Linked DNA regions of Homo sapiens. The protein of the gene in region 1 purifies or fractionates together with the protein of each later gene. This does not show direct contact. Each region holds a gene or a part of one and is shown on either strand. Other genes may lie near its edges.

Region 1 (4,414 bases):
CGCCTGTAATCCCAGCACTTTGGGAGGCCGAGGTGGGCGGATCACGAGGTCAGGAGTTCGAGACCATCCTGGCTAACATGGTGAAACCCTGTCTCTACTAAAAATACAAAAAAAAAAACCATATTAGTCTGCATTTTCCATGGAGGTGTTGTTTATATCTTTGTTTTGTGAGAGCTTTTTATGCTGATACCAGATTTGTTCATAGCACTTACTGCAAACTTTTTTCCAGTTTTTTAGTTTGCCTTTTAGTTGTTTTTTTGTTTGTTTGTGAGAAATGGTCTGGTTCTGTTGCCCAGGCTGAAGTGCAGCGGTGCGATCTCAGCTCACTACAGCCTCAACCTCCTAGGCTCTGGCCATCCTCCCACCTCAGCCTCCCAAGTAACTGGGATCACAGGCACATTCACCATGCCTGGCTAATTTTTCTTTCTTTTTTGTAGAGGTGGGGTTTCCCCATGTTGCCCAGCTGGCCTGAACTCCTAGGCTCAAGCAATCTGCACACCTCATCCTGCCTCGGCCTCCGAAAGCACCGCAATTATAGGCATGAGCCACAGTGCCCAGCCTTTCTTCTTTCTTTCTTTTTTTTTTTTTTTTTTTGAGACAGAGTCTCACTCTGTGGCCCAGGCTGGAGTGCAGTGGCACGATCTCAGCTCATTGCAATCTCCACCTCCTGGGTTCACGCCATTCTCCTGCCTCAGCCTCCCGAGTAGCTGGGACTACAGGCGCACGCCACCGCACCTGGCTAATTTTTGTATTTTTAGTAGAGACGGGATTTGACTATGTCAGTCAGGCTGGTCTCGAACTCCTGACATGATCTGCCTGCCTCGGCCTCCCAAAGTGCTGGGATTACAGGTGTGAGCCACCGTGCCTGGCCGCCTTCCTTCATTTTTATGGTTAGGAAGTCCTTCCTGTACAAAAAAAGAACAAAATTCAGGATTTGCTTAAAATGTAAACATAACACCCTGCGCCACATGAAGGGCTGGAGGGAGAGTTCGCACAGCCCTGCAGGCCGGGAAGCCCCTGACTCGAGCCAAGGCTCTGCAGCTGCAAGGCCTCCTGTCAGAGGAGGGGGCCTGGGGACTCCCTTAGCCTCACCCTGAGACTGGGGCTGGTGGCCTCCTGGGGGCAGCAAGAGCCCAGGCCCTTTCTGGAGGGACAGTCCTGTTTTCTGAGCTCTGAAGTTAATGGGACTTCCTCCCGGACCACCTGCCTCACCGCAACTCCTCCCCTGCCTGGCACCTGTCTGGGCCTCAGTGTCTCACCTGTGCAATGTGGGCCCTCACAGGGTTAGCGAGGTGGCCTGGCCCAGGAGGTGCCCACAATGCTGGCCCCTCACAATGGTTGCCCGGTGACAGGACTCCCCTCAGGGAAGGGAGCTGGATGCCGGGAGGGACTGGAGCCAGCAAGGCCAGAGTGAAAGCAAAATGACAACTACTCAGAAACACGATCTCTTCACGCCGGAGCCTCACTATGTCCCTGGGTGAGAGCCGGGAGCTCTGGAGGTGGCTGGGGCCAGGGCTGCAGGAGGGGGAGAATGGCTGGGGCCTGAGGCATGGAGGCCAGCTGTGAGGGGCCCAGAGCTGGACCCCAGGAAACTGAAGGCCACACCACGGGGCACTGCAGTCTGTGGGCTGGGGAGCCCTGGGACAGGGGAAGCTCAGGGATGGGGTTGCCAGGGGCCCAGGCCTCACCCTCCCTGCTGGTGTGCAGCTGCGAACTCGATACCTGGTGGCCAGCACGTCTGTCGAGCAGAAACTGGGTCAGCCAGCAGCCGGCAGAGGCCGGCTAGTAAGTGCCCGACGCCCACTCCAGAGAGGACTCCACACTTCATTTCATTTTATTTATTTATTTTTTGAGACAGAGTTTCGCTCTTATTACCCAGGCTGGAATGCAATGGTGCAATCTTGGCTTACCGCAACCTCTGCCTCCCAGGTTCAAGCGATTCTCCTGTCTCAGCTTCCGGAGTAGCTGGGATTACAGGCATCTGCCACCACACCTGGCTAATTTTGTATTTTTAGTAGGGACGAGGTTTCTTTATGTTGGTCAGGCTGGTCTCGAACTCCTGACCTCAAGTGATCTGCCCACCTCGGCCTCCCAAAGTGCTGGGATGACAGGCTTAAGCCACCACGCCCGGCCAGGACTCCACACTTTAAAGACAAGGCAAGCAAACGCCAGGCTGCCTCACTAGATATCCCCCCAAACAAAAAATAAAAGTAACCCCTCTACGGAACGTGTGTGTGTGTGCACCTACATACACACACGCTACATGCAAAGGGGAAAGGCTGGGAAGAAACCACACCTGCCTCTGAACAGCTACGTCTGGGGAAGGGGCAGGTGAAGCTGAGGCTGGAAGTTGCTCGGCTTTTTTTTTTCTTTTGAGACGGAGTCTCGCTCTGTTGCCCAGGCTGGAGTGCAGTGGGGCGATCTTGGCTCACTGCAAGCTCCGCCTCCTGGGTTCACGCCATTCTCCTGCCTCAGCCTCCCGAGCAGCTGGGACTACAGGGCCCGCCACCAATGCCTGGATAACTTTTTGCATTTTTAATAGAGACAGGGTTTCACCATGTTGGCCAGGATGGTCTTGATCTCCTGACCTCGTGATCCGCCCGCCTCAGCCTCCCAAAGTGCTGGGATGACAGGCGTGAGCCACCGCGCCCGGCCCTTTGGCAGTTTTTAAGACGAAGGTAGTTCTCACTCCTTGAAAGATCACATAGACCCTGAGGCGCTGAACCGCCTGTGACCACCTGCACCATGCCCCTCGAGGTTGAATGAGGGCCCGGAAAAGCCCAGCCCTCCACCTGCCTCCCAGTTCTCTTCCCGTGCAGGAGGCTACTGGCCTCCTGGGGTGGCACAGGTGCAGGCCAAGCCCACGCAACACCCTCCTGGTGGGCCCTGCGTGTGTCCAAGGGTCCGTCCCTCGCCTATGTCCTGGCCCACACGTCTTGTGCCTGTACTTGCTTTGCCAGGGCAGAGCACCCCTGATTTGCTGGCAGTTGGAATGAGGGGTGGGAGAGGGTTGGAGGGGCTGGTACAAGGCAGGCGGCCATCTGCTGTGGTGCTGACGTGTTCCCAGCATGTGGTGTGTGCCGCCTGTTCAGGCTGAGAGAGCTCTAGAAGGCAAGTGCCACTGCAGCCCCATTTACAGGTGAGCAGAGGGCAGGCGAGCTGCCACAGGCCAACCTGCTGCTAAGTGGCCAGCAGGCTGAATCCACATCTGGCTTGAAGGGGCCCTGCCCAGTGCTGGGGCTGCCCTTGAGACCTGCCCTGCCTTCTTCTCTTCCCTCCACAGCTATGCCGGCTTCTTTCCGCAGCTGCGCTACCAGGTGGGGAACACCTATGGGCGTACCACGGGGCAGCTGCTCACAGACCCCAGTGTGCAGAAGAGCCCCTGCTCTGTGCTGTCCCCCATGTCCAAACCCAAGTTCATTGAGGACTTCAGCCAGTCCAAGCCCCCGAGGGTTCCCTGCCAAGACCTGACGGAGCCCTACATCCCCCACTACACCAGTGAGCTGCCAGTCCCCAGCCCTGCACCCTCCTGTGCCCGCCTGCCTGTCCCGGCACTCACAGGCTGCCCTGTTGGTACAGGTCTGAAGCCCTCTAAGAACTTTGAGATTCTGGGCCAGCTCCCACCCTTGGAGGTGGACGCCCAGGAGCCGCCAGGGGTAGAGAACATACCCAGACAGATTCTGCTGCCTGCAGGCTTCACGCCCGACACCCCGCACCCTCCGTGCCCACCAGGCAGGAAGGGAGACTCCAGAGACTTGGGACACCCAGTATACGGGGAAGAGGCCTGGAAGAGCGCCACTCCTGTTTGCGAGGCCCCCAGGCAGCACCAGGCAGCCAGGGGATGCACCAGTGCCAAGCCCATTCCGCTCAGCCCCAGGTGGGAGCTGCACCGTGACCTCCGCTTCCTCCCCGCTCCAGCTGTACCACTGCCAGAGGGATGAGTACCCACCCCCCGCCCGCCGCCAGCAGGAGACGCTAGATGTGGGCAGCTTCCAGCGGCTGCCGCAGCTGGACCACCCTAACCTAATCCAACGCAAGGCCATCTCAGGTGGGTGTGGGCCTGGGCTGGGCTGGAGAAGGCCGCCCCTCCCCACAAGGTTCTTGCAGTGTGAGAGCCCCTGAGGAGGCTGCCACAGGGGCCCACTTTTCCTGCTCCAGAACAGGCTAGCGGCCTGGGGGGACCTCCTCTGCCTCCCAGCTGCTTCCAGGAGCCCAGCTTTTCCCAAGACGAGGCGGTGCCTTGCCTGCCTGTTCCCATTTGGCCACATCAGACAGTCGCCAACGTTCAGGGAACGAAAGGGAGCCTTGCCTGGCTTCCCTGACACGTCTGAGGGCAGGTGGGTGTGCCCAGGGGAAGGCTAAGGGGGCTTGGGGTAGCCCGTACATCTGCCTACCCCCAGGCTATGCTGGCTTC
Region 2 (3,147 bases), on another chromosome or scaffold:
GTGCCCCAACCCAAGCCACCTCCTCCCTGCATCTCTGCAGTTGGACAGGCTGTCCTGCATGGGGACAGCCTTGTCCTGCTGTGGCCCTTCCCCCAGCCCTGACTCCCTGCTTGAGCCACTATGGGCACCGGGCTCATTACACACTTAAAAATGCACATCTGGCCACATAGAGATCCCCTTAGAACGCCCAAGGAACTGAGGCTCTTGGAAACACGTGTGTGTGGGAAACGCACAGACACGCACGCCAAAGAGCATCCAGGGCAGGCGCCATGCACGGACAAACACACATGTGTGCACAGACATGGGCCTGTCTCTGCGCTCCCCACACTCACTGTCTGGCCCCAGGACTATAGGAGGGTTGGGGGGTCCCCCTCTGGGTTGTAGCCTCCTCTGGAAGCCCCTCCGCTGGATCCAGAGCAATCCTTCTTCAGGTTCTCCTCCCACACTCTGGAATCCTCCCCCAGGCATGGATGGACAGCTGTGGGCACAGAGGCAGCCACCACTGGCCCCAAGACACTTGCAGGTCCAAGGCTGCACTGGCCAGACCTCCCCCAGATCCTGTGGTCAACCTCCCTTCCTCCATCCACTTCCCCAGCCAGAGAGGAGCCGTGCAGGACAGAGGACACAAACCATGGACCTCTGGACATCTTCCATTTTATAGAAAGGGAAATTGAGGCCAGGGGTTGGGGAGGCCTGGCAAGGAACATGGTGCATGGTAGGTGGCAGAAGGGACCTCTGTGCTCAGAGCTGTGCCTCAGGACCCATCGTTCAGATGGGAAGACTGAGGTTGGGGAGGTGTGTCTTGGGTTAGGAAGCTGGGCTCGGGGCAGGGGTCAGCGCGGGCATGGCAGGCACGGTGAATGTGAACTTCTCAGTCTGGACAAAGGCAACGCCCTTCTCATAGTAGGCAGCCTCGTTAATGAACACGGGGTACACCGTGGACTCTCCCTCATAGAGCAGGTCCTCCCCACTGAACATCTGGAAGATGGGAGCACCAGGCTGCAGTGGCTGGAAGTCTCGGTCCTGGGAGGAGAGCCAAAGGCCAAGATTGCTGGGGCCACCTCTGCCCTGGCCCCAGAGGGGGGTGACCCCAGCTTGACACCCAAAAGATGCCCCTCATTCATGGCTTTTCCCACCCATGCTTCACTTCCTTAATCCATATGACAGCAGGTCTGGTGAGATACCAGTCTGCTCTGTGTCTAGAAATGAAGACACAGGTCACCTTGGGGTGGCATGTGCCCATGTGGAAGTGGACCCTCATGGATACGGGCACAGGTATTGAAGCTGGAGTTCAAATTCTTGCTAGCTGTGTAACTGTGAGCAAGTCACTTAACCTCTGTTTCTCAGCTTTCTTGTCTGTAAAATAAGGATTACAATATCTCCTCCTATCATTCTGAAGTTTAGACTAAACAGGTTAATAGTGCTTACAGCAGTGTCTGGCACACGGTAAGTACAATATGATTCTTTATTAAATAAATTTTGGCTGGGCGCAGTGGCTCACGCCTGTAATCCCAGCACTTTGGGAGGCCAAGGCGGGTGGATCATGAGGTCAGGAGTTCAAGACCAGCCTGGCCAACATGGTGAAATTTCATCTCTACTAAAAATACAAAAATTAGCCAGGTGTGGTGGTGAGCGCCTGTAATCCCAGCTATTCGGGAGGCTGAGGCAGGAGAATCGCTTGAACTCAGGAGGCGGAGGTTGCAGTAAGCCAATATTATGCCACTGCACTCCAGCCTGGGCAACAGAGCGAGACTCTGTCTCAAATAAATAAATAAATAAATTTTAAGCCTGGGCACAGTGGCTCATAATCTCAGTGGCCTGTAATCTCAGCACTTTGGGAGGCTGAGGTGGGCAGATCACTTGAGGTCAGGAGTTCGAGACCAGCCTGGCCAACGTGGTGAAACCCTGTCTGTACTAAAAAGACAAAAATTGGCTGGGTGTGGTGGTGAGTGCCTATAATCCCAGCTACTGGGGAGGCTGAGTCAGGAGAATCGCTTGAACCCAGGAGGCAGATGTCACAGTGAGTTGAGATCGCACCACTGCACTCTAGCCTGGGCAATGAAGCAAGATTCTGTCTCAAAAAATAATAATAAAAAATAAAATAAATTTTAAAATTGTAGGAGGAGCCACCCAAATTGACTGTTATGACTGAACGTCTGCAAGGTAGCTGGGCACGGCTGGATTAAGACTGTCTAGCCCTAAACATGGACGGGATGGTGCTGCCTCCATTTGTAAGAAGGTAACTCCTCAAAATGAAACTTCAGGGCACAAAAGGCCACAAGATTGCACCAGACCCTATTCAACAATGACCCCCTGTGGCAGCAAGCAGAGCAGCAGCCAGTACGTTCTTCTCAGGCACCCAAGGGAAAGGTGTGGAAGCAGGATTGCCTAATCCTGGAACATTCAGGAAGGGAAGGCCTGCAGAGAGACATACTGCCAACATGCATGGGGATGCTCGAGGAACCAATTGAAAATCAGAAGAGAGTTTTGTATTTGCACCTCCAAGCAGGTGAATTGAGTCATGCCTGCTCCATGTCCCCTCCCTCTGCCTTTTACAGCCAGGGTAGGGTTGTCTCCATCATGCCCTCCACAGGAGCTATGGGGATCACTGTGGCCTCTTGTGCTAGGCCTGAGTGTGGGGTTCCAGGGAAGGCAGCAGGGCCAGGGGAAGTGGGATGGCGGAGCCCAGCCTCCCATCCTGCTCCTCAACCCGAGATGCTGGTGAGCTCGTGGGAGGCTTGGCTGCACCCCCTGGGGCTCAGTTTTCCTTGACAATCCTCCTCCCCAAGGCTGTGGCCCCAGAAATCACCCCCCACCACACACACACACACACACACACACACCTGCAGCTGAGGATGCACAGTGCCTGCCAGGTGCCCGGCCTCGGTGCGGGGGAAGTCCACGACGCCCACGGGTCTATAGGCTTCCATCTCAAAGGCAGGAAAGGCCGTACCTGTGTGGGAGGCTGGGTGTGTGAGCCCATCCCTCCCTCCAGGCTAGGGGACAGACTGGGCCGTGGGGGTACGTCAGGGCTAGATCCCAGCCTGCCTGTGAGCCTGGCTCCCCAACCCCTGAGCCAGACCTGCTCTTCCCCGGACCTGTTTCCCGAAAGTCCCCTGGGGTCTCACCCTGGTTGAAGAGTTCGAT

Evidence for each region.
Region 2: the proteins of CIMIP2A (region 1) and ACY3 purify together in Homo sapiens (affinity purification with mass spectrometry; one large-scale study listed by BioGRID and IntAct). This does not show direct contact.

What each region holds. Positions count from the first base shown.
Region 1 is NC_000009.12:137,244,723-137,249,136, reverse strand, and holds the start of CIMIP2A (ciliary microtubule inner protein 2A), read left to right. Parts: upstream 1-1,421; coding exon 1,422-1,477; intron 1,478-3,283; coding exon 3,284-3,498; intron 3,499-3,579; coding exon 3,580-3,830; intron 3,831-3,918; coding exon 3,919-4,048; intron 4,049-4,158; coding exon of another isoform or gene 4,159-4,322; exon of another isoform or gene 4,323-4,327; intron 4,328-4,400; coding exon 4,401-4,414. UniProt on the Homo sapiens protein: Microtubule inner protein (MIP) part of the dynein-decorated doublet microtubules (DMTs) in flagellum axoneme. Binds to the intra-tubulin interfaces.
Region 2 is NC_000011.10:67,641,917-67,645,063, forward strand, and holds the end of ACY3 (N-acyl-aromatic-L-amino acid amidohydrolase (carboxylate-forming)), read right to left. Parts: coding exon 3,129-3,147; intron 2,954-3,128; coding exon 2,844-2,953; intron 1,024-2,843; coding exon 808-1,023; 3' UTR 639-807; downstream 1-638. UniProt on the Homo sapiens protein: Plays an important role in deacetylating mercapturic acids in kidney proximal tubules. Also acts on N-acetyl-aromatic amino acids.